Linked DNA regions of Homo sapiens: all the other regions are linked to region 1. The links come from fine-mapping of genetic effects on gene expression. A gene starts in region 1. Each other region holds a variant in brackets. All regions are shown on one strand. Distances are from middle to middle.

Region 1 (10,247 bases):
CTTCCGCGTGGGTTCTGTCATTGTCTCCATGAGAGGCCAATGCCGGGACCAGAGGCATTCCTGGCTCTGGAGCACCCCCTTGTGCTGAAGATGGCCAGTGATTTTGGGCATGTGAATGCCCCTGTCCCTGGTGGAGAATTGCTTGGTGGTGTCACGGGAAGGGAAGGCTCCCTGGGACCTTAGACACCCAGCTCATCTCAGCGGGGTCTGGACTCACCTTCCCTAAAACAGTCCCCGCGGTTCCCTGCCACCTCCCCTCAATCCCTCTGCGCCCACCCTGCCTCCCTCCCTGTTCCTCCGTGACACACCAACTTCTTTCGCGCCCCCAAGCATTTGTGTAGGCTGTTCCCTCTGCCATACTGTTCCAGTTCCACTTTCTTTTTCTTTTTTTTTTTTTTTTTTTTTTGAGACGATCTCGGCTTACTGCAAGCTCCGCCTCCCGGGTTCACGCCATTCTCCTGCCTCAGCCTCCCGAGTAGCTGGGACTACAGGCGCCCGCCACCACGCCCGGCTAATTTTTTGTATTTTTAGTAGAGACGGGGTTTCTCCGTGTTAGCCAGGATGGTCTCCATCTCCTGACCTCGTGATCCGTCCGCCTCGGCCTCCCAAAGTGCTGGGATTACAGGCGTGAGCCACCGCGCCCGGCTACAGTTTCACTTTCTCTAAACAAATAAAGGTGCCCACTCTGGGCCATCGCTAGCTCCTTACCCTGCGTTCTCCGCCCACTCTCAGGAGCATTTATTCCTCTGTTACTGTCCACAAGGCTGTGAGTTCCCTGGGGGCAAAGGCCAGGCTTGGCACACAGTAGGTGCTCACTTAATACCACAGGATGATGTAATAAACAGGCACAGAGGAGACTCACTGGAGGGGGATGGAGTCTTCCTTTATGCCTCTGACACACTGCACTGCCCTTGCCTGTGGCTTCCTTCCTGGAGACTCAGAGTTGCCCCTCCATTCCATTCCCCATGGCAGTCCTGGGAGGATCTTTCCAACCCCAGATATGAGGTCCCTCTCCAGCTCAAACACCTCCCATGGCTCCCCAGTGCCTCAGAATACATACAGGGCTCTTCCAAAGTCTCCTCAGAGTCTCCAACCCCATGTCGTTCATCCCTGGAGGTTACTTTCCAGCCTCCACGCCTTTGCCCAAGTTGTTTTTTACACCAGAAAACAGCCCCCTCTACTCTGCTTCATACTCCTATTCATCCTGCATGGCCTCAGCTCTAATGCCCCTTCTCTGCATTTGCGCTGCCCAAATGAGCTGGGGGTATCTGTGTCCAGGTTTGTCCTCCCGGCCGACCCCACCACCGCTCAGACGGCTGAATATCCCCCCGGCCCGCTCGCCAAGTCTACAATCTTTTCGAGTTCCTCCTTTCCTCCTCTTTCCAGCCGGTTTCCCGGCCAGGCCTGGCCCTGATTTTCCGGGTGGCGCTCCCGGATGCGGCCGGCAGGTGGCGCTGCGGCCGGGCAGACGGCGGGGTTGCAGACCCGGAAGCGCTCCAGGCCACGACCCCGCCGGAAGTGCTGCTGCCCCGAACGGCGCTGCAGGTCCCTAGGGGCGGCCAGTAACACGGCGAACTCAAAAGTTGAGTTGGGAGCACAGACATCCCCATGCGCAGGCCCAGGCTGGGGCGGAAGGGGACGCGAGGCAGGAAGGGGCTTCAAGCGAGCAGTGGCAAGGCTGGCGCCAAGCTGAGGGCCCGGCCTCCCAGCCCAGGGGGTCTCCTCCGTGGGAGGGGTCCCGCAGCTGCCTGGGTGCCAAATCCCCCGCGACCCCTCCACCCAGGGCCCTCTGTGGTCCCAGGCACTCCTCCCACCAGTCCCCAGCGTCACCACCACAGAGCCAGGTGCATCGGGTGTAATCACTTTATTGGCTTTTGGAGAGCAATGGAGGGGATTAATACCTCATCTTTCCAAGTTAAAAGACTAAGACTGTTTCCAAAAGACTCCAAATAAGAAACTTCTCCTCAAAGTACAAGGATAATCTGAATCATCTTAAACCAGCAATAAAAAAGTAAAATATAAATTTTTATTTAGAATTAAAGCAAATACTTCAGTATCACAAACACAATATTAAACTTCAAGAAATACACCGCTAATTCGGAGTGAGCGTTTATTTGCACGATTACAACATGCGGACAAACCCAGGCGAGATGAGCGAGTCTACGGTTCCTACCCACCCGGCTGACAAGGGGTGGCCCCAGGGGCCGGATGCCCAGCCCCGAGGCGGCCCTACTCCTCCTCCTCTCCCGAAGACTCTCTCTCGAACGTGTAGGCCATGAAGCAAGCGTCGGGTCTCTTGGGGACAAGGGGATGCCCCGGTCTCACAATCTCAAAGCCCAAAAAGCTGAAGGTTCGGAGCAAGGCGGCTGCGGGGGAGAAGCCGTCAGAACCCCTGCCGACCAGAACCCCCCGCCCGCACCCCCCACCCCCGCAGGGAGACCGTGCCTGCGGGCTGAGAATGAAGGGGCGGCGCAGGCACCCCCACGCACCCTACTGCAGGCGATACGGGTCACCTACCTCTGTCCTCGCGGTTCTTGTGGAAGCAAATGAAGACATGGTCGGCTCGCAGCTGCTCCTCAGCGAACTCCAGGAGAACTGCAAAGCTGCAGCGAGTGTCAGCGTCTCGGCTGGCCCGACCCACCTGCCTACCTCCTGGGCCTTAGCAGCTACCCTGAGGCCCGCTCTACTCCAGGGTCCCCCTGGGGCCCAGATCGTCCTCTGGGTGGGGCCGTCCTGACACCACAGTGTTGAGCAGCACCGCTGCACCCACCCACGTGCATGCCCCATGACAGAAAAGCTCTGACACTGCCTGGCATCCCTTGGAGGGTAGAATCCCAGGGTACGAATTTGGAGTGCACTTTTTAAAAAGGGACCCCAGGCCGGGAGCGGTAGCTCACGCCTGTAATCCCAGCACTTTGGGAGGCCGAGGTGGGCGGATCACGAGGTCAGGAGTTCAAGACCAGCCTGGCCAACATAGCGAAACCTCGTCTCTACTAAAAACACAAAAATTAGCTGGGCATCGGTGGCGGGCGCCTGTAAGCCCAGCTACTCGGGAGGCTGAGGCAGGAGAATCGCTTGAACCCGGAAGGCAGAGGTTGCAGTGAGCCAAGATCATGCCACTGCACTCCAGCCTGGGCAACAAAAGCAAGACTCCATCTCAAAAAAAAAAAAAAGGGGGGACCCTGTCCCCACCAACAAAGCGATGGTGGCCCCCATATGTGCTGCCTGAAGGCAGTGCCCTCCCTCATCTGTCCCTGCACCCCTTGGGCAGCAACCCGCACCTGGTCCCTGCTCCCCTGGGTGAGCACTCCCCGCCTGTCCTTGCCCCTCACCTGGTCCCTGCTCCCCTGGGTGAGCACTCCCTGCCTGTCCTTGCCCCTCACCTGTCCTTGCTCCCCTCGGGCAGCGCGCCGCCCGGGATCTCGATGTAGAGGCTGCCGCCACTCAGCACTGTTCGCCAGTTAATGCGTTTGGCGTCTGTGAGCCTGGACTGGACGTTGAGAATCCTCGTCTTGTCGTTGGACGTTAGTTCCTCTGTTACATTCAGCCGATCATCCTGTCCAGGGGGTGCAGCCCAATTCAGAACCCTGACTCACCCCACAGGACTCCAAGAACCCGGCAGCGCTAAAGCTTGGGCCTAGGCCGTGTTGAGCTCAGGCAACGCCTGGGCTGCAGGAGACTGTGCGCCGGCTCTGATGAAACTCAGGGTTCCCACGATTACATTCAATCACAGGTACGGGCAGCAAGGTGCACAAGAAAGTACCTGTGGCCCCAGAGCAGCCCCAGCAGGCCCGGCCCCATACTCACGGAGTAGAATAAGTTAGCTGAAAGATTGTGATCCCTCTGACTATTCCCTCGCCCACCTGGGATCTTCAGGGGTGGGTGAGGGGCATCAGGAGCACCACCGAGGCCCCGGACCCGGGTTACTACAGCAGTGGAGGGAGACCCTGGAACTGAAGATGATGCAGGTCACGAGGCAGCGCCAGGCTCCGGGCGGAGACCCCTCCAGGGCGTCCGGGCGGCCTTCAGCACATCCCCACCCCTGCCTCGGCCAAAAGACCCCGCCCCGCCCAGGCAGGGGCCCACCCGGTCCCACACCCCCGAGGCTTCCCGAAGGCAGCTCCAACGCCTGCCCCAAGCACCTACAAGGGCAGCAGTCACTGAGCCCCGACTCCTCGGGCGGCGCCGCCCAGGACAGCCCAACCTTCCCAGGGCGGGGGGCCCCTTCCCCTCACGCAGCCCCGCCGGGGCAGAGCCTCACCCCCCGGCCACCAAGACAGCCAGCGCTTCCCCTTTTCAGTTCTGTCGCGGCTTCCCCTTTCCACCCTGCACTACGGCCAAAATCTGGGACTCTTGCTTGTCCCCGCGAAGACCGGGCGGGCCTAGCCTGACCTCATGGAGGACGCGCCCCGCTCCGGCTCCCGGCCGCCCGCCCCCCCGCCCCCGCTCCAGGCCCGGGCCCTCCCGGTTGCGTCATCCAGGCAGACGCGGCCTCGCGCCCCGGGGGAGATTTTCACAATCGCGCAGCCGGCAGCGCCAGCAGCCATTTGCTGCGCAGGGTAAACAGGCCCCAAAGTTGCCTCCATTTTGCACGGCCCCCAAACCGCGGCACCGCCAGCACCGCGGCCCAACCTCCCGATCCGGGGCTGAGCGACGCCCACCTCGGGGGACGCAGTCGGGAAAGCTCGACCGAGACCCCGCGGGCTCCCCCACAACCGCAGCTGGCACCCGCGCCCCCGGAAGCGGGACGCGTCTTCCCGGGAAGCGGCGGGGGTCTTCCCAGGGCGCTGCCGGGCTGTCGGAGTGCGCCACCCCCAGCTCCCCGGCGGCCCCCGCGGAGAAGCCCTGGGTGCCGTCTACGTGCGCGGCCTCGCCCGGCGCGTCCCGGGCCATCCAGACCGACTCGCTCAGGGGCGAAAAACGGGGCCCACGAGGTCCGTCGCGTGCAGGGGCCACATCGAGGCAACAGGGACCCGCGGGAGCTCGTCCACCGCAAAGCGCTCCCCGCTCCCGCAGCGCACGCTCGACGGCCGGGACCGAAAAGTGCAGATTCACCAGCCCCGCGGGCCCTGCCTGTCCGCGGACCAGCCCCCCAAGGCCGACCCCGCCCCCAACCAGATTGCCCCATCCTGCGCCTCCCAAATCCGACCCGACCGCACACCCTTCCTCCAAACCGAATTCCCAGTCTGCGCCCCGCAAATCCAACCCTCGACCAGAAGCCTCTCCCCTCCTCCGAAGCCGAGTCCCATCCCGCGAACCCCGCAAAAGACACACGCCTCCCCCGACTCCCCGTCCTGCGCCCAAATCCGACCTCCGACCCATGCCCCTCCCGCAAATCAGGCGCCCCGGACGGTGCCCCCCAAATCCAACTCCGCACCCTTGCCCCCCAAACCCGACTCCCCCGAGAGCACTGCTAAGGCCGGGGGGGACCTCCAGGCCCGCCCTGCGCCTACCTCGTCCCCGGCGCGATTCTGGCCTTGACAAAGGGGCGGATCTCGCGCGCCGGGGACCTATCTGGCGCCCCGAGGACGGCCCCCCGCAGGCCTGCGCGGCCGGCGCTTCTGGAAGCTTCGGACGGGGGCGGGGCACTTACCTCTCACTGCTGCTGCCGCCGCGGCTGTGCAGGCTTAGGAGCGGCATGGTGCGGCTGGCGTGGATGGTGGCGCTGGGTTTATCCCCTTCCTTCTCTCTGGCGAAGCAGTGGCTATTGAGGATCCGCTGCAGGGAGGATTTCACCATCCGGCCGCTGGGGTCCGAAACCAGGAAAACCTCCGCTGCGTCTCTCCGCGCCGCCGCCGCTGCTCGCCGTTCGCAAAATGGCGCCTCTGCCGCCGCCCGCCTTTATAGATGCTGCGCCCAGGCCACGCCCCCCGCGCCGCCGGGAACGCGACCGCACGAGGGGCAGAGCCGCGGGGCCGCCGGGAAAAAAAGTCGCGCCCGCCCCTCCCAGCGCCTGATTGGTGAAAGGGAAAGGGAAAGGAAGAGGCTCTCTGGAGATTGGTTGGTGAGCCTCGGGCCACGCCCCCTCCTGCGCGCGTCCTTCTGGGGGCGGGGCTGCCGTGGCGCCGGGTACGCGCTGCGCGCGCCCCGAGCCGTCCCCGCCCCCACAATCGTGCCTTGGGGGCGGGGGCGGCTCGCTGGGGCCGATTTTCGGGGGTCTTCGAGTGCCCGTTTGTCTGTCGTGGTCCACGTCGCCCTCCCTAGGGTCCCTTCACGCAGCGGGACCCCTCCCCTGGGTAGGCCCCCGGGTGCTTGGGGGGTTGTCCAACCGCGCCAGAATTATTTCCAGTAACACCTGGTAATCATCGATGATATTACTGGTTTTATTTTTTTAAATTTGGTCTTGCAGTTCTTAAAATGCTTCCAGTGTTTAAAAAAAAAGAACTTCCAATGTTAAAGATATTCAAATTTAGTAAAATATTTCGTGTACAATTTGGACTTAAGCAAAAATTTTACTCCTTGCAGATAAATTCAGATTTTTCCTGTGGAAACTGAAACTTACCCTAAGGAAAAACACTACTCCTGGCAGTTAAAATTCAGAAACACATCTCATGTATGAACTAAAATGTGGATCTCCCAAGGAAAAAACGATTTCTTTGGTGGTCAAGTTCGGTAAACTGTTTCGCCTGTGAGGTAAAATGTGGACTTACCTAGCAAAAATATTTCCCCTCCTGGTTAAATCCAGAAAAAAAATCTCAGGTATGAACTGCACTTTGCTTTTAATAAGCAAAGATATAACTCTTGGCAGTCACATACGGGTACATAGCTTGTGTGTAGACTAAATTATGAATTTAGCAAAAAGTTGCCACTTTGCAGTGAGGTTTAATAAAATATTTTTTATTTCATGTATAAACAAAATTTTGTTCTTACCAAGCAAAAATGCTACTCCTGGCAAATCCTGATTCCTTTCATGGTTTTAATTTTGTTTTGTTTGCGACCGGGCCTGGCTGTCACCCAGGCTGGAGTGCAGTGGCGCAATCTCGGCTCGCTGCAACCTCCGCCTCCCAGGTTCAAGCGATTCTCCTGCTTCAGCCTCCTGAGGAGCTGGGATTACAGGTGCCCGCCACCACGCCCGGCTAATTTTTGTATTTTTAGTAGAGATGGGGTTTCACCATGTTGGCAAGGCTGGTCTGGAACTCCTGACCTCAGGTGATCCGCCTGCCTCGACCTCCCAAAGTTTGGGGATTAACAGGCGTGAGCCACCGCGCCTGCCTGTCTTTCGAGATTTCGTACTGCACCAGAAGGCTGTTGTTGCATCTCTGCTACGAGCATTCGCTATTCAGGTGTTGAGGCAGAAATTAACTCCTGCGGTTGACATTTGGGGCCGCCCTGGGCACTGCAGGGCGCTGAGCAGCGTCCCTGGCCTCCACCCACTCCATGCCTTGAGCACCCCCAGTTGTGACAACCACAAGTATCCGCAGACATCACCCAGTGTCCCTTGGCGGGGGCAGAATCACCCTGGGTGAGACTCCCGAGTTAGGGGATTCCACGGACCCCCCCAAGAGACTCTGCATCCCATGATCCTCTGCCCTGCTGAGGTCCCAGGAGACTGCGCACGTTGAAATCCACACCTTGAGGCAGAGGTTGCAGTGAGCTGAGATGGCGCCGCTGCACTCCAGCCTGGTGACAGAGCGAGACTCTGTCACAAAAAAAACAAAAAAAAAGCAATCCACACCCTGAGTGGGGAAGGAGAGAGGAGAAGCATCCCAGGAGCTGGGGGCCTCCTGGTTTATACCGTTTGCCCCATTAGGAGTTTATCCTGAGGCTGGGCACGGTGGCTCACGCCTGTAATCCCAGCACTTTGGGAGGCCGAGGCGGGTGGATCACGAGGTCAGGAGTGCAAGACCAGTCTGGCCAACATGGTGAAACCCCGTCTCTACTAAAAATACAAAAATTAGCTGGGCATGGTGGCGCGTGCCTGTAATCCCAGCTACTCAGGGGGCTGAGGCAGGAGAATTGCTTGAACTGGCACCCGGGAGGTGGAGGTTGCAGTGAGCCAAGATTGCACCACTACACTCCAGCCTGGGCTACAGAGCGAGACTCCATCTCAAAAAAAAGGAGTTTATTCTGGTGTCTGGTGTGAGCAGAGAACAGACTCTGTTTCAAATAATTAACTCAGGGTCTCCTCCCTCGGACCCGTGGACATTGGGCTTGGATTGTTCTCTGGGGTGGGGCATCCTGGGCAAATGGTATGAACCAGGAGGGCCCCAGCTCCTGGGATGCTTCTCCTCTCTCCTTCCCCACTCAGGGTGTGGATTGCTTTTTTTTTTGTTTTTTTGTTTTTTGAGACGGAGTCTCGCTCTGTTGCCAGGCTGGACTGCAGCGTCCTGGGCACTGCAGGGTACTGAGCAGCGTCCCTGGCCTCCACCCACTCCATGCCAGGAGCACTCCAAGTCATGACAACCAGAAATGTCCCAAACATCATCCAATGTCCCTTGGGGGCAGAATGACGCCCCTAAGTTGAGGACCTCCTCTGGGAACAGAGGCAAGAGCCTGCTCGAAATGAACAGGTCACCGGTGCGATTTCCAGAACAGCCACGACCAGGGAGCCCCATCCCTCCATCCTGACTGCAGCAGCTCTCACTTCCTCCTCCTGCCTGCCTCTGATGGCCGCCTGCCAATGCTGTGAGGCTTCTAGAAGGGCCACCCCCACACTGGCCAGGCCACGTGGGATGAGCGCTAGGATCAGCAACTGCGCCCTGCTGGCCCACCTGGCCGGGTTCCCCAGAAACTCCCCAGGGTGGGAGGTGCTTTGCTGGGAGCTGGGGAGTCTGTGACTGGTGAGGGGCCTCCCGGACAGCAGGGAGAGAAAGAGGCATATCTTTCTCTGGAGGTGGTGAGGCTTGAACTGTCTGAAAGGGACAGCAGAGGATGTGGGGTGGTCAAGGATAGAGGGCCCATGCCTGGGTTTTCTTCTGAAATCAAGGTTGAGGGGATACGGCTGCTGGCAGAGGACGCAGAGAGTATGACTCTGATTGATTGATTGATGGACTGATTTTTTTTTTTTTTTTTTGAGACAGAGTCTCACCTGTAGCCCAGGCTGGAGTGCAGTGGCGTAACCTTGGCTCACTGCAACCTCCACCTACAGGGTTCAAGCGATTCTCCTGCCTCAGCCTCCCGAGAAGCTGGGACTACAGGCGTGCACCACCATTCCCGGCTAATTTTTGTGTTTAGTGGAGACAGGGTTTCACCATATTGGCCAGGACGGTCTCAAACTCCTGACTTCATGATCTACGTGCCTCCCAAAGTGCTGGGATTACAGGTGTGCCACCGCACCTGGCTGTTTGGTTTTTGAGACAGAGTCTCACTTTGTCACCAGGCTGGAGTTCAGGGTCATGATCTCGGCGGCTCACTGCAACCTCCCCTTCCCAGGTTCAAGTGATTCTCCTGCCTCGGCCTCCCAAGTAGTTGGGAATTACAGGCTCACGCCACCAGGCCCAGTTAATTTTGGTATTTTTAGTAGAGACGGGATTTCACCATATTGGTCAGGCTGGTCTCGAACTCCTGAACTCAGGTGATCCACCCATCTCACCCTTCCAAAGTGCTGGGATTACAGGCGTGAGCCACCGCACCCGGCTGACTCTGATTTAAAAGAGGGTATGTGGGCCCGGTGTGCACTTTGGGAGGCAGAGGCAAGAGGATCGCTTGAGCTCAGGAGTTCAAGACCAGCCAGGGCTACATAGCCAGACCCCATCTCTGCAGCAAATTTAAAAATTAGGGACATGGTGGTGCACACCTGTAGTTCCAGCTACTCCAGCGGCTGAGGCAGGAGGATCCCCTGAGCCAGGAAGGTCAAGGCTGCAGTGAACTATGGTCTCTCAACTGCACTGCAGCCTGGGTGACAGAGGGAGACCTTGTCTCTAAAAGAATTATAATAATGAGTTAAATAAAATAAAATGTAAACAGGTAAAAATAAAGAAGGATTGGGGCCGCGCACAGTGGCTCACGCCTGTAATCCCAGCACTTTGGGAGGCTGAAGCAAGAAGATCGCTTGAGCCCAGGAGTTGCAGACCAGCCTGGCCAACATAGCAAGACCCTATCTCTAGGTTCTCACTTTGTTGAGAATTTTAAAAACTTCTAGAAATTTTAAAAAATTAAAAAAATTTTAATTAGCTGGGATTGGGTGGGCATCTGTGATCCCAGCTACTTGGGAGGCTGAACCAAGAGGATCACTTGAGCCCAGGAGGTCAAGGCTGCAGTGAGCTGTGATCACACCACTGCACTCCAGCCTGGGGGACAGAGCAAGA
Region 2 (10,247 bases), 98 kb before region 1:
GGCAAAGAAAGCAAAAGTTGGCCGGGCACTGTGGCTCATGCCTGTAATCCCAGCGCCTTAAGAGGCTGAGGCGGGTGGATCGCTTGAGGCCAGGAGTTCGAGACCAGCCTGGCCAACATGGCGAAACCCCGTCTCTACTAAAAATACGAATATTAGCTGGGCATGGTGGTGCATGCCTGTAATCCCAGCACTTTGGGAGGCCGAGGTGGGTGGATCACCTGAGGTCAGGAGTTCGAGACCACCCTGGCCAACACGGCGAAACCCCGTCTCTACTAAAAATGCAAAAATTAGCTGGGCATGGTGGTACACGCCTGTAATCCCAGCACTTTGGGAGGCCAAAGTGGGAGGATCCCTTGAGGCCAGGCGTTTGAGACCAGCCTGGCCAACATCACAAAACCCTATCTCTACTAAAAATACAAAAAATTAGCCAAGTGTGGTGGCGTGCCTGTAATCCCAGCTACTTGGGAGGCTGAGGCATGAGAATCACTTGAACCCGGGAGGCAGAGGTTGAAGTGAGCCCAGATTGCTCCATTGCACTCCGGCCTGGGCGACAGAGTGAGACTGTGTCTCAAAAATCAATAAATATATAAAAATAAAAAAAGAAAGCAAAAGCTGAAGGCTGGATTCATCCTGGGTGAATTACCCATCTCATTATAATGCAAAGTCCATTTTAAACCCAAGTTTCTGGCTGGGCGCAGTGGCTCATGCCTGTAATCCCAGCACCTTGGGAGGCCAAGGAGGGAGGATCACTTGAGGCCAGGGGTTGAGACCAGCCTGAGCAACATGGCGAGACCCCCATCTCCACAAAAAATAAAAATAATTAGCCAGGGGTGGTGGTGCACGCCTGTGGTTCCAGCTACTTTGGAGGCTGAGGCAGGAAGATCACTTGTCCCCACGAGGTCAAGGCTGAAGTGAACTATGATTGTGCCACTGCACTCCAGCATGGGTGATAGAGCAAGACTTTGTCTCAGGAAAAAATAAATTTTTTTAATTTAAAAAAAGTTTAGAACACCCATATTTCTAAATTGAAATAAATTCTTACTAAGCTGCAAAGTCTGTTTAGAGTTAAAAAAAAATAAGTCAGCCAAAAGAAAATCATTTAGTGCTGGACAGACCAAAAATAAAACCTGCCTGTTTCAATGAATCTTTCTCTTATCACTCAGATGCAATGGAGACAGCCGGTCTCAGACAAGCGAGCGTTTTAATTCAGAGAAAGGCAGAGAGAGAAGGTTCTGGAAGGTCCTTCACACTGCTAATCTCAGAGTAAAAATATCTTCTAGAGTTTTATTATCTTTTTTTCCAAAGACTGGGGGTGGGAGAGAATGAAATACACAGGTAGAAGGAGGGAAGATAGCCCATTTCGAGAAACAAGAGTGGGCATGGAGGTTGACAGGTGACCTTGAGGTGGGAGGAAGCCCTTGACAAGAAGAGGCATCATTTATTTTTTTTTTAAAGCAACGTAGGAGGGTGTTACTGGCCGGGTTTGAGAGATATGTGAGAATGCCCCCAGGCAAACCAAAAAGAAAAGTGTGTAGCTGTAAAACCAAAGAGATCAGTAGGAGGAGACTCGCCCGCCTGCGTGACAGGAAAAAGCTTCGAGAAGAATGGACGTGGGATCTCAGATCTGAACTGCGCACCAAGATACAGGGAAGAAAAAAGAAGGGGCCAGGCACAGTGGCTCACGCCTGTAATCCCAGACTTTGGGAGGTCAAGGCAGGCGGATCACTTGAGGTCAAGAGTTTGAGACCAGCCTGGCCCCCATCTACTAAAAATATAAAATTTAGCCGGGCATGGTGGCGGGCGCCTATAATCCCAGCTTGAACCCGGGAGACGGAGGTTGCAGTGAGCCGAGATCGCACCAAAATCATGAACCATCAGCATTGATGTCTCCAAATTGAGCCTGTGGCTCGACCAGCCTCCAGCCCAACAGACGCCACTCTCTCGGCATCCTCTGGCCCAGGCGGGAGGCAGGAAGTCCGACTCATCCCAACGCGGTGGTGATGGGGTGAGAGTCCCTGTCACCCAGTGAGTCAGTTTGCTTTGGGGTGACCAGTTGTCCTGGCCCTGGTTTGCTCAAGGCTATTCTAGTTTTGTTTTTTTTTTTTCTTGGTTTTGTTGTTTTTGAGACGGAGTCTTGCTCTGTCGCCAGGCTGGAGTGCAGTGGCACGATGTTGGCTCGCTGCAACCTCCACCTCCTGGGTTCAACCGATTCTCCTGCCTCAGCCTCCCAGGTAGCGGAGATTATAGGTGCCCGTCACCACATCCAGCTAAATTTTTTTTTTCTTTTGTATTTTAGTAGAGACAGGGTTTTGCTGTGTCACCCAGGGTAGTCACAAACACCTGAACTCAGGCAATCCGCCTGCCTCAGCCTCCCAAAGTGCTGGGATTACAGGCGTGAGCCGCTGCGCCCGGCAGCTATTCCAGTTTTAACCTGGAACCTGGGACATCTGGCCAACCTACCGACTTCCGTCTTCATCTGTCAGGAACCATCTGGAGCCGTGTGGGGGCCCCCAAGGAGGGACTAGGCAAGGACTTTGTTAGCAGAGCCACGAGTGACTGTGAACGAGTGAGCGACTGTGAACGAGGCAATAGCAATGTCTGTTTCCAGCCTCCAGATGAGGCCAGCTGGGGAGAGTCTTGGTTTAGGGCCAGCGTGTCCTTAATGCCACTCTGAGACCTGCCAGTGTCTGTTTTCAAACAGGAGTGAGCTGTGGGCTCAGAGCCTTCGCAGAGGACATCCGGGGCCAGGGAGTAGGGTGACAGGAGGTAGGTATTGGCCCTGGGAGAAAAATTAAAGTGAGTTCCAAAAACCTCGGTCATCAAGATACATAATATTGTCATGCATTTTTTTCTTTTTGAGATAGGGTCTGGCTCTGTCACCCAGGCTGAAGTACAGTGTTATGATCTCGGCTCACTGCAGCCTTGAACTCTTGGGCTCAAGGGATCCTCCTGCCTCAGCCTCCCGAGTAGATGGGACTACAAATGCATGCCACCACGCTGGGTTAATTTTTTTTTTAAGTTTTTGTAGAGACGAGGTCTTGCAATGTTGTCCAGTCTGGGCAATATATATATAAAGAGAGACAGAGAGAGAAAGCAAAAGCAAAAGAAAGCAAAAGCTGAAGGCTGGATTCATCCTGGGTGAATTACCCATCTCATTATAATGCAAAGTCCATTTTAAACCCAAGTTTCTGGCTGGGCGTGGTGGCTCACGCCTGTAATCCCAGCACCTTGGGAGGCCAAGGAGGGAGGATCACTTGAGGCCAGGGGTTGAGACCAGCCTGAGGAACATAGCGAGACCCCCATCTCCACAAAAAATAAAAATAATGAGCCAGGCATGGTGTAGCCTGCAACCTGGGACATCTGGCCAACCTACCCACTTTTTTTTTTTTTTTTTTTTTGAGACAGAGTCTCACTCTATCACCCAGGCTGGAGTGCAGTGGCGTGATCTTGGCTCACTGCAAGCTCCACCTCCCAGGTTCACACCATTCTCCTGCCTCAGCCTCCTGAGTATCTGGGACTACAGGCTCCCGCCACTGTGCCTGGCTAATTTTTTTGTTATTTTTAGTAGAGACAGGGTTTCACCGTGTTAGCCAGGATGTGTATATATTTTTTTGAAATGAAGTCTCTTGTCACCCAGGCTAGAGTGCAGTGGCACAATATCAGCTCAATGCAATCTCTGCCTCCTGGGTTCACGTGATTTCCTGCCTCAGCCTCCCAAGTAGCTGGGATTACACTGGTGCCCGCCATCATGCCCGGCTAATTTTTGTATTTTCAGTAGAGAAGGGGTTTCGCTATATTGCCCAGGCTGGTCTTGAACTCCTGACCTCAAGTGACCTGCCAGCCTTGGCCTCCCAAAGTGCTGGGATTACAGGCATGAGCCACTGCATTTGGGCATCCCCAGTTGAGTTTCTGATGAGACCACAGCCCAGCCAACACTCTGACTGCAGTCTTGTCAGACCCTGAGCAGAGGATCCAGCCAAACCATGCCCAGCCACCCAACCCACAGAAACCACAAAACCATGAGACAGTAAACAGGAGGTGTTTCAAGTTGCTACATTTGTGGTAATTTGCAGAAAACTAGGCCAGGTGCAGTGGCTCAGGTCTGTAATCCCAGCACTTTTGGAGGCTGTGGCAGGAGGATCGCTTGAGCCCAGGACTTTGAGATCAGTGTAGGCAACATAATGAGATCCCATCTCTAAAAAAAAAAAAAAAAAAAAAAAATTACAAATTAGCCAGGGTGGTAGCACACACCTGTAGTCCCAGCTACTTGGGAGGCTGAGGCAGGAAGATCACTTGAGCCCAGGAGGTTGAGGCTGCAGTGAGCTGCGATCAAGCCACTACACTGCAGCCTGGGTGAGGGTGACAGAGCAAGACCCTGTCTTAAACAAACAAAAGCTAATACAATCATTAACAGGCTTCTTAAATTTGACACTGACCAAACTGAGCTCTCATATCCCTCCTCAGTCTCCTCTTCACAAAAATGCCTGCTCCTCCCACAGTCTTCTCAGCTCAGACAGCAGCTCCACTTTCGTACTCACCCAGGTACAAAAAAATTTTTTTTAAAACCTGGGTTTGGCCGGGCACAGTGGCTCACGCCTGTAATCCCATCACTTTGGGAGATGGGTGGATCACCTGAAGTCAGGAGTTTGAGACCAGCATGGCCAACATGGTGAAACCCCATCTGTACTAAAAATACAAAATTAGCTGGGTGTGGTGGTGGGCGCCTGTAATCCCAGTTACTCTGGAGGCTGAGGCAGGAGAATCACTTGAACCCGGGAGGTGGAGGTTACAGTGAGCCGAGATCACACCTTTGCACTACAGCCTGGACAATGAGAGCAAAACTCTGTCTCAAAAAAAAAAAAAAGAATTAGCC[G/A]GGCATGGTGGCGTACACCTGTAATCCCAGCTACTCAGGAGGCTGAGGCAGGAGAATTGCTTGAGCCCAGGAGGCGGAGGTTGCAGTGAGCTGAGATTGCGCCACTGTGCTCCAGCCTGGGCGACAGAGTGAGACTCTGTCTTTAAAAAAAAAAAAAAAAAAAAAAAAAAACTGGGTTTATCCTTGATGCCCTGGCACATCCCAAACCCAGTCCATCCAAAAACGTTGTCAGACCGTCTGCAGGGTAGCTCTAGAATTGGGCCCCTACGCCATGTCTAGCCTGGTCTAAGCAGGGCATCGCCCAGGCTCACAAAATGCCACTTCCATCTTCCCCTCCCTGGGTCTATTCTCAACGGGAAGCCTCAGGGAGACAGCTAAGACCCGCGTCAGGTGACATCCCACCTCTGCCCAAACCTCCCCACAGCGACCGGGTCTAACTGTCCTCATCTCCAACCCCTCCCTCCTTCAGCCCCAGCTTCACTGGCCTCCTCGCCGATCCCCAAACATGCACAGCATGGTCCAGCCTCAGTGCCTTCAAAGGCACAGGCTGTGTCTCCTGCCTGACATCCTCAGCTATACCCTAATGTGCCCTTCACATTCTCTGCTTTTTTTTTTTTTTTGGTCTCTCAAATTTTGCAAACTGCACCCATGGGAGTAGATGGTAGGATGGTTTCTGCCACATGCAGAGCCTGGAACTGCTTAATTCCCATTTGTCTTCCCTTAACCATTGGAAAAGGGGAGCCAGGAAAAACGCAGCCGCCATGTGCAGTCTCTCCGTTCCGTAGCCTAATGCCTCCTGAAAGAGCAAGTTATTTCCCTCTGCCTCTCCGGCCCCACAAATCCAGAGAGTTACAATTTGATAACTATAGCTGGCACATCATTCCTCAAGAGCTGTAACACTGAAAAATATACCTTTAATAAAAGTAAGTGGATAAAGCCAGGCATGGTGGCTCATGCCTATAATCCCAACATTTTGGGAAGCTGAGGCAGGTGGATCACTTGAGATCCAGAGTTCGAGACCAGCCTGGCCAACATGGTAAAACCCTGTCTCTACTAAAAATACAAAAATTAGCCAGTCATGGGCTGGGTGCAGTGGCTCATGCCTGTAATCCCAGCACTTTGGGAGGCCAAGGTGGGTGGATCACCTGAGGTCAAGAGTTCAAGACCAGCCTGGCTAACACAGTGAAACCCCATCTCTACTAAAAATACAAAAAATTAGCCAGGCATGGTGGCAGGTGACTGTAGTCCCAGCTACTTGGGAGGCTGAGGCAGGAGAATGGTGTCAACCCGGGAGGCAGAACTTGCAGTGAGCTGAGATCGTGCCACTGAATTCTAGCCTGGGCGACGGAGCAAGACTCCCTCTCAAAAAAAAAAAAAAAAAAAATTAGCCAGTCATGGTGGTGCACACCTGTAATCCCAGCTACTTGGGAGGCTGAGGCAGGAGAATCACTTGAACCCAGGAGGCAGAGGTTGCAGGGAGCCAAGTTTCCACCACTGCACTCCAGCCTGGGCAATGGAGCAAGACTCCATCTTGAAAAAAAAAAGTACATAAGCATTTTCTATGTGACAGGTGTTGTATTAAACAATATTTACAGTCATCATCTCATTTATTGCCACATTTCTCCTATGAGACTGGTTCTATTCTGACCAAAGATGAATTGGAGGCACCGAAGAGTTAGGTAACTTGCCCAAGGTTATAGATGTGGTGGTTTTTAAATATCTCCAAAAATTATTTGCTATCCTCACCTAGCAGAGCCTAATTTCCCTCTCCGAGTGTGTGTTGGACTTATTGACTCACTTGTAATGAATAGAATATACCAGAAGCAATGGATCTAGGCTTCTGAGGTTAGATCATAGAAGCACTATGGCTTTGTTCTTTCTCTCCCTTGAATCACCAGCCCTGGGGGAAGCAAGCAGCCATGTTGTCAGGATGCTCGAGCAGCACTATGGTGATTCCCATGTGGTGAGGAACTGAGGCCTCCCACCAACAGCCACATGAGGACACCAGCTTTGAAGTGGCTCTTCCAGGCCCAGACGAGCTTTCAGATGAGGCAGCCCTGGCCCATGTCTTTTTTTTTTTTTTTTTTTTGAAATGGAGTCTCGCTCTGTCGCCCAGGCTGGAGTGCAGTGGCGCAATCTTGGCTCACTGCAAGCTCCACCTCCTGGGTTCACGCCATTCTCCTGCCTCCGCCTCCTGAGTAGCTGGGACTACAGGTGCCCGCCACCACGCCCGGCTAATTTTTTGTATTTTTAGTAGAGGTGGGGTTTCATCGTGTTAGCCAGGATGGTCTTGATCTCCTGACCTTGTGATCTGCCCTCCTCAGCCTCCCAAAGTGCTGGGATTACAGGCGTGAGCCACCGCACCCAGCCCCTGGCCCATGTCTTAACTGCAACCTCATGAGAGACCATGGGCCAGAACCACCCAGATAAATCACTCCCAAATCCTTGGCCCACAGAAACTGTGACAGAATAAATGTCTGTTGTTTTAATTGGCTAAATTTGAGAGACATTTGTTATGCAGTAACCAAAAACTAATACACAGGACGGCAGGTCCCAGGGCTCTTCTGTCTGGTGTTCCTTATTTACTTTTTTGGTTTTTGAGATAGGGTTTCACTCTGTCACCCAGGCTGGAGTGCACTGATGCTATCACAGCTCACTGAAGCCTCAACCTCCTGGACTCAAGCAATCCTCCCACCTCGGCCGCCTGAGTAGCTAGGACTACAGGTGTGCACCACCACACCCGGCTAATTTTTTAAATTTTTGGTAGAGACAGGGTCTCACTCTCTGCTTTTAATGGCCAATGTTTTCTAGTTGCTCAAAACCATGGTTCAACCTCTCCAAGGAGAAATTCAGGGGGTTCCCTTTTTTTCCAAGCAGTTTCAATAAAACCCAAAGGTTCACCTCAGCTTCATTCTTGAGCTTCTAAATTTCTTCTCTTCTCTTTCTCCATCTCTTTTTTAAAATTATTTATTTATTTATTTTGAGACAGAATCTCACTCTATCACCCAGGCTGGAGTGCAGTGGTGTTATCACAGCTCACTGCAGCCTCCAACTCCTGGGTTGAAGCAATCCTCCCACCTCAGCTTCCTAAATAGTTGGGGCTATGGGTGCACACCACCATGCCTGGCTCATTTTTTTAGTTTTTGTACAGATGGGGTCTTGCTATGTTGCCCAGCTGGTCTCAACTTCCTGTGCTCAAGTGATCCTCCTGCCTCAGCCTCCCAAATAGCTGGGACTACAAGCCTGCACCATCATGCCCCCAGCCTCGGTCTGGGCTCTTTAGCTGTCTTGCCCACCTGTCTGTGTAGTTTTTTTGTTTTTTTTGTTTGTTTGTTTGTTTTTTCCTTCACCTAATCCAAGATGATCACAGTTTTCGGACACGTCCATCCCATTCGATTCCGCATCTTTGGTCCCACGGCAGCCAAAGCCCGTTTATAGAACAGACAGCTGTTGTCTACGCCATGGCCTCTCTTATTTCTTCCTGTCCCCTGTCCTCAGGCCTGAATCTAGTCAGGAAATCCTCCCCTCCTCCATCGCCCCAACATCATGAAATAAATCACTCAGCAAGCCTACAGGAAATTTAATAAGCTTGGTCTCCTTTTTTTTTTCATTTTGTCTATGGTCTTTTTGTTAGGCTTTCATGGGAAGAGGTGTTTGTGAGAAAACTATTTGCAGCAATGGTATCTTGTGTTCTTTTAGCTTTATAATGTGGACAGAGGAGAAAGGAGTCAGTAATCGTGTGGGAGGGAAGACGCCGATAAACATGAGTGATACTAAGGGACCCAGAGGAAAACGCAGAGATTAAAAAATAACCTTCCAATCACTTATGAGTTGTATCATTTAAAATTAATACAGCTCCTAAATGCAATGTGGGATCCTGGATTGCAACGTAGAACAGAAATATTGGTGGGAAGACAGAGTGTGGCACCCACAGTCGTGCGTCAGTTTTGCTCTTTTTTTTTTTTTTGAGATGGAGTCTCGCTCCGTCGCCCAGGCTGGAGTGCAGTGGCGCGATCCTGGCTCACTGCAAGCTCTGCCTCCCGGGTTCACGCCATTCTCCTGCTTCAGCCTCCCGAGATTACAGGCGCCCGCCACCAGGCCCGGCTAATTTTTTTTGTATTTTTAGTAGAGATGGGGTTTCAGCGTGTTAGCCAGGATGGTCTCGATCTCCTGACCTCATGATCGGCCCGCCTCAGCCTCCCAAAGTGCTGGGATTACAGGCGTGAGCCACCGTTCCCGGCCCAGTTTTGCTCTTTGTTCTGTGGTCAAAGGTGTCAACGCAAGGGGACACTGGGTGGAAGGTGGGTGTGCGGGGACTCTCTGCACCATCTTCACAACTAAAATTATCCCCCCCAATTTTTTTTTTCATAAAGGTAAAGTGTAAACAAAACAACAAAGGGCTGGGTGCCGTGGCTCCCGCCTGTAATCTCAGCACTTTGGGAGGCCAAGGTGGGAGGATTCCTTGAGCCCAGGAATTCAAGACCAGCCTGATCAACATAGTGAGATCCCATCTCTGCAAAACAACAACAACAAAGGAAGCCTTATGCAGTTATGAGTGGATCACCCAGAATATGTTATCCTCTGCATCCATTTCAGAGCAACACACAGAAACATCAATGGCTTAGAACAGCCTGCAGGGCTGCGTCAACCATCAACTTCAATAAAACCCCAAGGTTCGCCTCAGCTTCATTCTTGGGCTTCTAAATTTCTTCTATTTATGCGTCTTTCATTCATTCATTCATTCATTCATTCACTTATTTATTTGAGACAGGGTCTCACTCCGTCACCCAGGCTGGAGTGCAGTGGTGTGATCACAGTTCACTGCAGCCTCCAACTCCCGGGCTCAAGCGATCCTCCCATCTCAGCCTCCTGAGTAGCTGGGACTACAGGTGCTGGGTCTACAGGACTACCGGGAGGCTGAGATGTGCTTATACCAACAGCGTCCTGTTGGTGTAGGGCTCATAGGCTTATGAGAGTTGATCCAGCCCTCCCAATAATCCCAGGGTATACAGGAGACAGGTCCAGCTAATATCAGCATGCCCATTTACAGAGGAGGAGATTAAGGCTCTCTCTGCCTCTCCCTCCCTCCCTCCCTCCCACTCTCACTCTCTCTCTCTCTCTCACACACACACGCGCGCACGCACACACACACACACTCACACACAGAGTTCTTGGAATTCTAGTGACTCCTCCACATTGCTGGGCAGCTTCCCTGTTATGCTCCCCGAGAACCCTGCTCCCCAGCTAAGCCAGGTGAGCCTGGGGGACCGAGGGGCGCAGGGCCGGGAGCTCTAAACCCTGCCCCAGTGTCGGCACCCAGGGTCCAGTCCTGCCTCCCCAAGCACCAGCTCCATCACCCACAGTTGCACGCACA
Region 3 (10,247 bases), 41 kb after region 1:
CTTTTCCCCAGCTACGAGTTCATGCGGAGAAGCCTCATCTTCTACAGGAACGAAATCCGGAAGGTGACGGGCAAGGTGTGTGCAGGGCTGCAGAGGGCCGGGGTGGGGCTGCAGGTGGCAGAGGCAGTCCTCCAGCCCTGGCTCATGGCCACCCGTCCTCCCCACAGGACCCCCTGGAACAGTTCGGCATATCCGAGGAGGCCAGGTTCCAGCTGAGTGGCTTGCAGGCGTGAGCGCAGGGCACGGTGGTCAGCGTGCAGCGGGACGGGACTGGCCCTGCCCAGCCATGAATCGCTTGGCCATGCCTGGATCTGTTTTGTTTTGGTTTTTGGTTTTTGGGTCAGGGTTTCACTGTGTTGCCCAGGCTAGAGTGCAGTGGTGCCACAGCTCACTGTGACCTTGACCTTCTGGACTCAAGTGATCCTCCTGCCTCAGCTTCCCAAGTAGCGGGGATCACAGGCATGAGCCGCCACACCCGGCCATCACACCTGGATTTTCAGTGGGAGGTTTTTGGTTTGGAGACATCCAAAGCCTGAAGCCAGGTGGGTGTGGGCAGGGGCTGCATTTTATGAAACTGCCCAGCAAGCTGCGCTCCCTGGGGCCCCAGGATCCACCTAACTGGCCTGGCACCTGGTGCCACGTGCTGCTGCCGCCAGGATATGCGCCTTCCCACAGGTGCCCTGCCTGAGTTGTGTGCATCCAGGGGCCTGGTGAGCCCCCAGGCTGGTGGCATGGCCCCCCTGCCCCGTGCTGAATGAATGTACAGAGCCAGACAAAGCTGTGAATGGCCTAGGGGCTGAGTCCCACACCAGCTGTGAATTCTCCTGCAGACAGGAGGGCCCTGGCTGTGCACCTGGGGAAGTGGTTGCCCTGGGGCCAGGGTGCTTGTTCTGTTCAAATAAAGGTACCTCTTTTCCACACTGGATGGCGGTGAAGTGAAGGAGAGGGGAGGGGCAGCCAGGGAGCCCCCACCCAAGGGAAGTAAGGCTCAGGGTCCTGAGAGGCAGTGGCTGGGCCTCCTGCACTGAGGGGAGAGCTAGAACCCCCAGCCAGGACAGGTGGAGGCTGGGACCCAGGCCTGGGGAGAACAGAGCTGCTGTGTGGTATCAGGAATCCTGTGGTGACCTGGGGTCCTGCCTCTGGCATTCACGGGCCCTCCCGGAGTGTGGCTGGGGCCTGGGCGGGCTTTGGTCCATCTGATGTGAAAAGGACTTTGCCGATGTCATTGGGGTCGCAGATCTGGTTTTCCGTTCATCAAAAGGCACTTTGCCTGTGGCCTGGTGCCCTCATAAGCCTCCCCTTGCCTGTGGCCTGGTGCCCTCATAAGCCTCCCCAAGGCCAGGGTGTCCTGGTGTCAGCCCCCGGAGCTTCTGCTAGGAGCACCCCTAGGCCCTCCACTCCCCGTTTCGGCGATGACACACTAGCCGGGGCCTCTCACTGGCCGCCAGGAGACGCCTCATGCCACCTGGAAGAAAGGCTGCCATTCACACCAGGTCCGAGTGAAAACAGTCTGTTTATTACAGCGTCTAGAGGTGGGGATGCAGAATGCAGGGGTGCCCAGAGGAAGGGGCGCCTGCAGCCCAGGGGCGGACCGTGACAATGCGCGCAATCCAAATACAGTTCACCCGGAAGACACGGCAGAGCCTCCCACGTTACAAAGGCTGACACAGACCAGCAGCGTGTTGTGTTGGGAGGGGGGTCTGACCACGATGGCGAGGGCAGTCGGCGGGGGGTGGGGGGCCTGCTGACCACTGAACAGACTGACGCATCCTGGGGGCAGATAAATTAAGGGGGAAGTCTTAAATAAGTCACTGTGCGTGCCTCATGGGCCGAGGAGGGGGTATCCTAGTTTTTAGGGTTCCTATCAATTCCTGAGCAAGAGCCACTCCCAGGCGCCGCCCGCCCACCCACAGTCAGCAGCAGCAGCACAGGTCCCCGCCAGCTGCCCACGGAAACTCAGGCCAGGTGCCAGCACCAGGCTCCAGATCCCCAGTCTCCACAGCCACCCTGCCACCCGCCACACACCACCCCTCAGTCTGGGAGTGTCTGAGAAGAACACAGGCCCAGGGCTCAGAACAGGAGGGTGTCCGCAGGCAGCCACCACACTAGTTCACGTGTGGTGACACGCATATGACCCAGTGGGCTCAAGGAGACTTCTGCCTGGGCCAGTGGCTCTGAGACCCAGTGCGTGTCCTGAACATACGGTGGCCTGCGTGGGCAGGAGCCCTGCATGGCCATCTGCAGGACCCGTGATGGCACCCGGACTGCCACTGTCACCTAGAGGGAGGCAGAAGTAATACAGTGTTTAAAGAATGTGTCTTGTTCTAGACCAGGGACTCGGCCGTCTCTGCCATCAACCCTGTGGCGTATCCGGCCCGTGGCGACACAGAGCAGGCTGCCTGTCCTGAAGGCCAGGCTCGGGGCTTGGGGCTCAGGCAGAGGCACAGCACCTTCTAGCTGAGAGCACCAACGTGGGGTGGGGAGGGCACTGGGCACCACTTAAGAGGACAGGTCCGGAGCACCATCTTCAGAACTCAGCTATGTTGGAGGGTGGGGGTCTGAGAGGTTGTTGGGGGCTGGGGGAGGCAGCACCCCCCTCACCAGGCACAAGCAGGGGTCTTCAGGCCCTCCCACACAGGACTCCCCCACCTAGCAACCACAGAAGCCTTTCCTCCGTGGCTCCCTTTGGAGGCCACGTGGTAGGGATGTGACGTGTGTCCATCCTGCCCTTGGGAACCAGAACACAGGGCTGGCAGCTCCCTGGAGGGTGGATCTGTGGCACCTTGGGGAAGGGGCTCCCCGATGCCATCTCACAGGAGCAAGCACTTGAGAAGGTGGGCTCAGCAAGTGCCACACAGCCCAGGGCCAGATGCGGGGAGCTCAGACTCCCAGATCCCATCCTCCAGGGAGGGCACAGAGCCACCACTGCTCAGACAACCCAGGCCCTGACTGCTCAGGGCTCCAGAAGCACTGGAGTGGCCCTGCCTGCCTGCTACACCCCGGCCTCAGCTCCTCTCCTTCCACACCCAGTCCCAGGCACCCGCCAAGGCTGCAGAGTGGGGGGCCGACGTCACCCTGGGGCCTAGGGCCAGAGAGGCCAGGTTTCAGCAGTGCACCCTGGCCCCAGCACACCCACAGCAGCTGGGAGAACCAGCACAGGCTCCAAGGGATGGGTGCCAGGCGTGGCCCTGACAGGAAGGGATGTGGGGCAGGCAGGGGCGCCGGCAGCTCTGTCTGGGCTGCTGGGAGCTGCAACTGAGGGGTCTAGGGTCGGGGCTGACGCTGGGGCCATTTTGTGCACTGTTTGAATAAATAAGGTTTTTTCCCCTCGCTTTTCTTTCCTCTTCACTGTGCATTATACCATCTAAAAATAAAAGCTGTCAAATCTATGAAATTTATAAATTCTCATCACATCTCTATAAAATACTGCCACTCATTAGTGTGACTCTCTCCTGTACAGAAACACCAAGGGACCCACGACAGGCCTGCCCCGCATCGCAGGGCATGCTGCGAGCCATGGACAGCCGAGAAATACAAAAGTAAATGCACTTGTTCAACGTGCCCGCGCCGTCCTCACAGCACCATCGCGCAGCACATGGCCAGCTGCGTCACCGCGCAGGCCCCTTCACATGCAAGGGCGCAACCCACGCCCCGGAGGGTGAACAGTCTGGGGGTTCACAGTGCCGGGGTAAAGGTGAAGAGCTCAGGGCAGGCGCCAGGGCGCTCAGGAAGGGGCTCAGGCCGCGGGGAGGCCTCCGAGGAATGTGGTGGCGACGGGCCTGCCTTTGGTACGGGAGCAGCGCGTCGGGGGAGCCGGCCGGGCGGCGTTTCCGAGAACGGGGTTCGGCGTTGTCAGCGTCTAGTCAGCACCAAGCGGGTGGAGGCAGGCGCGGGCCTGGGGACGAGATAGCACCGGGGCAGGCTGTGGCGAATCCGCTGGCGGGCCCGCCCTGCAGACACGTGTCTTTATATAGAGCTCTCATATATAGATATTTATATTTCTCAATAAGTTGCCTTTTACCACTTAGATGGAATAAAATAAGTCAGAATTGTTTATACTTTTTAAAAAATGATAAATACTTTATCTAAAACTATCGACAGTACAAACTGGACCAGTCCCAGCCTCCTGCGGCGCGTGCCGCCGATTCACAGTGGAGCTCCCGTCCGTCCTTGCCTCTGCCGTCCAGGGGTGGGAGCCCGGCAGGCCGGCGGGCACCATGCCGCGGGCGCGAGTTGGTCCACACCGTCCTTGCATAGGTCTCGCGGTTGAGGTAGAAATCCTAGTTACCTGCAGAAGGGCACAGCGGGAAGAGCGGCCTGAGGTTACCATCGCGCCTGGGGGAGCCCAACACTCACCCAGGCTGGGGACCGAGGCCTCCCACGAGCACACACGCCACCTGGGGCCAGCACCATGACAGGCATAGTGCCAGCTCCTCTAACCACAACAGACGACGGGCGTGCCCCGTGACAGACCAGGGAGCCTGACACCTGGACACGCCGGCCAAGCTCCAGCCTTCCTCCAAAGGAGACACACAGCCGAGTCCAGCTAAAGCCACCCTACCTGCAGCTCATCTCCTAAGAGACCCAGCATAGCTTGTCCAGCCC[G/A]CAGGTGCCCGCATTGACCCGCCAGGCTGACCAGCCCTGGCCACAGCCTCCGCCTTGGCTCCTGGCTCCCAGTCCTCCTCTCCTTGCCCGGTGGGCTTTGGACTCGCCCAGGAAGGCCTGTGTCCCAGGGGCCCCTGAGGCAGAAGGCCAGGGGCAAGCAGAGGGCACCTTTGCACTACGCCGCCAGGCACGCCATGTCCCTGGAGGGCACGGGTGGCCAACTGCCCTCAGGGGTCAGCGGCCACAGTCTCCACAGCCTCTTGGGGGAGGAGTGAACAGGACATTCCCTGAAGGCCTCACATCATCAAAATCACTCCTGCTTCCAACTTCCTTCTGGTCTCAAAGGTGGGCACCGTCTACACTAACCTGCCCAGCTTGGTGCTGACATCTGAGCAGCTGAAAGCCCCTCGGCTGTGGGCCATGACCACAGGGCAGTGTGGCCATCAGCCGTGTCCAGCAAGGGGGCCTCAACACGCAGGGCACAGAGCTTGCCTCTCGACCCCGCCGGGAACCCATCAGCCCCCAGGCAGGCAGGGCACTTGGGGCTTCACTGGCTCCCTATGAGGGCATCCGAGGCTACTGGCCAGACAGCCCCGACCAGAGGCATCCAGCCAGCCACCCTGGCTCTCCAGGACCTCTGCAGCCGGCACCGTGCCTGCTACATGCTGGGCGCCTGGGGAACAGCACCAAGCCACGCCACCCGTCATGAGTGACCTGGGCCTGGTGCGGATGGAGCCCTGGAGACTGCTCTAGGAGCTAGAGCTCCCAGCCCCCTGGCCTGGCACCCCGTGAGCCTCGCCCACAGGGGCTGGCACAGCTGCCCCCAGGGCTGGCCTCAGTCCTGCGGCGTCACCGCAGGAACCCAGCTGCGGGCAGCTGGAACCCAACACACTCAGGCCACTCCATGGCTGGTGCCCGTCCTGTAGTCCCTCCTCTCGCGACCATCTCCCTGGTCTCCCTGGCTCTCTCCCTCTTCCCTCCTCAGGACCCCCGGAACTTCTGCCGAGCCCTGTGGCCGTCTTCTCTGCCAAAGGAAGGACAGTTCAGTGTCTGGAGTGAGCCACCGCGCAGGGCTCTGGCCTTACCTTACACAATACGCACTGCTAGCTAAGCAAGGTCTTTATCGCGGCTTAACCCCCGAAAGGTGCGCGGCATAGGGAGGCGGCATGCCGAGGGACACCCACACCGCGGACGGCCCCGTGGCGCTGGCCTGTGGGATCCCGGGCGCGGCCTGGGCCAGGGCCAGCCGGGGCAGGGGCTGGTGGTGCACCGTGAAGGAGGGGCGGGCGCCCTTGTGCGGGAGGGAGGTGAGCTTGATAGACAAAGAGGCGTTAGCAGGCGGCAGAGAGGCAGCAGAGGTGGGGGGCAAGAAAGCTTGGTTAGGCGGGAGGGACGCGAGGCTCTGCAGAAGCGCGGGCTCAGGGTTAGAGGCCAGCAGCGTTGGGGGAGGAGGCAAGGCGGCGTTAGGTGGAGGGGGGGCGTGGAGGACGGGCGGCCCCGCGGGGGACCGGCCCAGGTGCGCAGGCGGGGGCAGCGGGGGAGGCGGAGGCGGAGGCGGAGGGGGCGGCCGGGTCTCAACCGAGGCCGGGGCCTGAAAGGAAGAGGCCGAGGCGCTGGCCGCCGCCTGCAGCGGGCTCGGGCCCAGTGTGGCGCTGCCACATGCAGCCCCGCGGCCGACACGGGCTCCAAACGGATGAGCAGAGGCGGAGGGCACCGCGTGGTTAAAGACACCTGCAAATAGGAGAGAAAAACGCAGCTTCAACAAGCGGCAGCATCCAGGCAAGCGCAGAGCAGCAGCCGCAGGCTCACAAAAAGGGAAGCGAAACGGCGCCGCCAGGCGTGTGCGGGCACCAAGCACAAGCAGCGGCTCGGCCAGGCTCGTGGTGGCCCGCCCTCCGCCCTCCGGCCCCCCGCCCCGCAGCAGCCCCAGGGCCAGGCCGCTCCCCCCGGCGGCTCCTCTCCGCCCTGTCTGGGCAGGCACTGCGGGGACTCGCTCTTACCCAACACCAGCTCCCAGAGCCTTGCCAGAGCCCGGGCGGCCACACCTAGCAGGTGACCTCCACGGGAGAAAGTAATGCTCTGGTGGCCCTGCGCACGGTGGCCTTCTGAAAACAAGAGGGACGCGGTTACAACCAGAGAACCCAAGACACACGGACTCAGCGTGAGCCCTCTCCCCACAGGACTGGAGTTCGCCACCGTGCACGGATGGCGGGGGCCGGCCGGCACCAGGGGACCTGCAGCTCAGCTCCTGCTGCAAGAGAGTGCGGAAGGGAACCTGCAAAGGAAGGGGCCTCCGGCGGGGGCCGGGGCGGGGGGCGGACGGACGGCCGCCCTGCCTACCTCCAACTGTGCCGCCTGCCACCCCGGAAAAGCTGCCCATGGCGTGCGAGTTGGTCAGTCTGGTGGCAGCGGACGACACGTGCACCAGGCCTGCGGCGGCCGGCACAGAGCTGAACAGCGACTGCAGCACGGAGGAGCCGGCCACGGAGCCGAGGTTGGCCTGCAGGGACATGGGGCCGAGCGCGAACTGCGGTCCCGGCGGGAAGGGGCCCAGGAAGGACCGGTGCGTCTGGGCGGAGGACGCCGCGCCGCCTGCGGAGGACGCCGCCGGGGCCAGGCCGGGGCCGCTGAGGAGGCTTCCGGGAGGCACGGCCGCCGCAGAGATGAAGAGGTTGTGGCCATTCTTGAGGTCGACCTCGCGGTCCCGGGCCTTGGCGGCCTTGCCGCTCAGCAGTGGGGTCTTGTCCGTGGGCCCGCACAGCGGTAGGCCGCCCTCCCCTGCCTCCTTGCCGCGGCTGCCCTCGCCCTTCAGCCCAGCCAGGCCGTCCAGCTGCCTCTTGCTCAGGAAAGGGTTGGCGTCCGAGCCCTCCTTGCCGCGCTGCGAGGGGAAGCTCAGCGGGGAGCTCAGGCCGGCCGCCTCGGGGCCCTTGTGGGGAAGAGAAGCACCATCACTGAAGCTGTGTAAACTCAGGTCCGCGGCCAGGCCCCCGCCGAAGGTGCAGCCGTTGGCAGGGTTGGTGCCCGGGCTGAGTCCGTCAGCCCCCGACAGGGAGCCGGGAAAGCCTTTCCTGGGGTGAGCGGCCAGCTTGGCATCGGCAGAGGGCTCCTCCAGGGCGGGCCGGAACGTGAACAGGGAGTTCTGGCTGAGGGCGGAGCTGGCCTGCAGCGGGCTGTCCGCCGACTTGGCCAGGCCGATGTCGGAGATGGGCGAGAAGGTGGACTTCCACTTGCTGCTATTGACTGGCTCGCCGGCGGGCGCGGGCTTCCTTCCCGCCAAGCCACCACCTGGCAAAGAGGAAAGGCAGAAGCCGTGAGCCCAGAGCACCTGCCCGGGCTACCCATGAGGCTAACCGGGGCTGCTGCCACGGCCCGGGCAACTCTGCAGGCAGGGCTGGTCACAGACACTCAAGATGCCAAGCGGGACAGGATGGGAGAGGACAGGAGGGAAGGGGACGGGAGGGGACAAGATGGGATGGGACAGGAGGACTACAGCACAGGATGAGATGGCAGGGGACGGGACTGGATGGGACAGGAGGGCGGAAGACAGGACAGAGGCAGCTGAAGCGGGTCTCAGAGGCCATGCGGGATGAGCTCTGGGGAAAATGCTGAGGTCAGCAGCCTGCGGGAGGGAAGGTGGGGCTGCCCCAGAGCAGGTCAGGGTCCTCACTGAGGACGCAGGCACCACTCGGGGGGAAGGCCAGGGTGCAAAGCAAACAGGGGACCCAAGGTGACGATCCCCGCAGGTCAGCCACCCACTGTGAGAGCATGGCGTGTGCGCGGAGGCCCTGGGCTGCAGTGAGGGCCTCCCAGAGGCAGTTCTGGAAGCCCAGCGCCCCCAGTGTCGGCGCCCACGCAGGACACGACGCAGCAGGCCAGCACCACGCAGGACACGACGCAGCGGGCCAGCACCATGCGGGACACGATGCAGCGGGCCAGCAGGTGGGTCAGCAGCACTGACTGGGCACCACGGCCACACGGACAGGCCTGGCCACGCCGCAAAACACTTGTTACTCACCATTTTCCAAGGTTTTCGGGGGAGATTTGCTTTCTAAGGAGATTGTTGCAATTTTTCTCTCAATTCTGTTAAGAAAAAAAGGTCATTAATGCTTGAAACCCAGCTGCATACTAAGAATGACACAAATGCTGACAGCCAACAGCCCAGGGAGCTCCGGAGGTGGTGAACGAGAAGCACTCGGCCCAGACAGGGGACCCGTGCAGCCACCCTGGGCCAGGCCTGGACTGGGTGGCTGGGCCCTGGGATCCACCCCTGTTGTGCCACAAGGGTACTGTCCTGGCAGGGACTCCAGGGCCTCTGCTGGGACAAGCAGCCAAGAGATCAGGCACAGCAGCTGAATGGGAGAAGCAATTTCCCAGCACACAGAAGTGTGAGAATCCCAGACAGAGCTCTCTTCCTACCTCCCTCTCCCGGCCCCTCTCAGACCTCGGTGCCTCAGGTGGCAAACAATGCCACAGCATTGCAGGCCAGCACGTGAAGACATGCCCAACCACACACTGCATGGGGTCGCTTTGATCCAATGTCCCAAGAACACACCAGGGACACACAAATTCCTAAAGATCCTGGAAACCACTAAGCTGAGCAATCCCAATGCAAAACAGAGCATCCAGGTGCTACAATGTTTCTCGTGTAACACGTGCACGCACACGTGGGCAAGGAGCAGAACGAACTAACACAGAACACCACCAAAAGCACACTTAGGGCCGGCTGTGATGGCGCACGCTGGGAGGCACTGGGAGGCAGAAGGCTTGAGGCCAGGAGTTTGAGACCAGCCTGGGCAACATGGCAAAACCCGATCTCTATAAAACAAAAAAACGAACGAGGCACGGTGGTAGCGTGTGCCTGTAGACACAACTACTCAGGAGGCTGAGGCAGGAGAATCACTTGAACCCAGGAGGCGGAGGGTCAGTGAGCCGAGATCGCGCCACCGCACTCCAGCCTGGGCCACAGACCAAAACTCTGTGTCTCAGGAAAAAAAAAAAAAAAAAAGCAAAAAACCCTACCATGTTATATCACTTCACGACGACTCGGATGGCTAGAATCAAAACAAGAAATTCAGTGTGTTGAGGATGTGGGGACTGAGGACCTCAGACCCTCGTGCACCCATGGTGGCAGGGTGGAATGGTGTGGCTGCTGGAGAGCCCAGGGGGCCGGGCCACCCAGCACCTCCGCCCAGGCACCAGGAAACGGGAAACTTGCTCCCAAACACAAACACGCACACCCATGGCCACAGCAGTGCTGCTCACAACCGCCCAGGGTAAGCAAGCCTAGCACGGAGGGCGGATGGATGGTGGAGCACCACCCAGCCACGACAGGGACCGAGGATGCACCTTGAGGACGTCACGCTCAGTGAGAGATGCCAGACACAAAAGGCCACATCCTGTGTGACTCCGCTCCTAGGAGGTCCCTAGAGCCCTCAGATTCAGAGACAGAAAGTAGGATGGGGGCGGGGGGTGCCAGGGGCTCTTGGGAGGAGAAGGGGAGTGAGTGTTTCAAGGGGATGATGAGATTTTCTCAGGACATGATGGAAGGTTCTGGATTTAGGCAGTGGTAATGTGGATATACCAAAGACCTCTGAATTGCACACTTTAAATGGAGAATACGATATGTGAATTTTATCTAATAA

What was found.
Region 2: its variant is fine-mapped to the expression of OAZ1 in whole blood (INTERVAL, PIP 0.99).
Region 3: its variant is fine-mapped to the expression of OAZ1 in whole blood (INTERVAL, PIP 0.96).

Annotation. Positions count from the first base shown.
Region 1 is chr19:2,265,091-2,275,337 of GRCh38, reverse strand. It overlaps OAZ1 (ornithine decarboxylase antizyme 1), which reads right to left and starts at 5,852. Exons shown (of 5, transcript NM_004152.3): 1 at 5,594-5,852; 2 at 3,808-3,953; 3 at 3,384-3,556; 4 at 2,518-2,603; 5 at 1,850-2,366. The coding sequence starts at 5,739. The coding sequence ends at 2,230. It overlaps LOC105372240 (a long non-coding RNA gene), which reads left to right and starts at 6,085. Exons shown (of 2, transcript XR_936242.3): 1 at 6,085-6,236; 2 at 6,466-6,845. It overlaps PEAK3 (PEAK family member 3), which reads left to right. Exons shown (of 4, transcript NM_198532.3): 4 at 1-707. RefSeq lists enhancers at 1,092-1,231, 2,672-2,731, 2,742-2,801, 5,539-6,153, 8,649-8,818 and 1 more and silencers at 1,612-1,861, 2,322-2,471, 4,011-4,350, 4,361-4,560, 4,771-4,830 and 1 more.
Region 2 is chr19:2,363,572-2,373,818 of GRCh38, reverse strand. All of the region lies in intron 1 of TMPRSS9 (transmembrane serine protease 9), which reads right to left. Among named protein-coding and RNA genes, the nearest start is that of TMPRSS9, 8.4 kb to the right of the region's middle. The variant G/A (reference allele first, on the strand shown) is at 4,874.
Region 3 is chr19:2,223,826-2,234,072 of GRCh38, reverse strand. DOT1L (DOT1 like histone lysine methyltransferase) reads right to left here. Exons shown (of 28, transcript NM_032482.3): 26 at 8,621-8,685; 27 at 6,946-7,890; 28 at 1,495-4,288. The coding sequence ends at 4,281. PLEKHJ1 (pleckstrin homology domain containing J1) reads left to right here. Exons shown (of 6, transcript NM_018049.3): 5 at 12-75; 6 at 168-920. The coding sequence ends at 233. MIR1227 (microRNA 1227) reads left to right here; the gene lies at 1-11. Among named protein-coding and RNA genes, the nearest start is that of MIR1227, 5.2 kb to the left of the region's middle. RefSeq lists an enhancer at 7,704-8,210 and a silencer at 10,032-10,091. The variant G/A (reference allele first, on the strand shown) is at 4,606.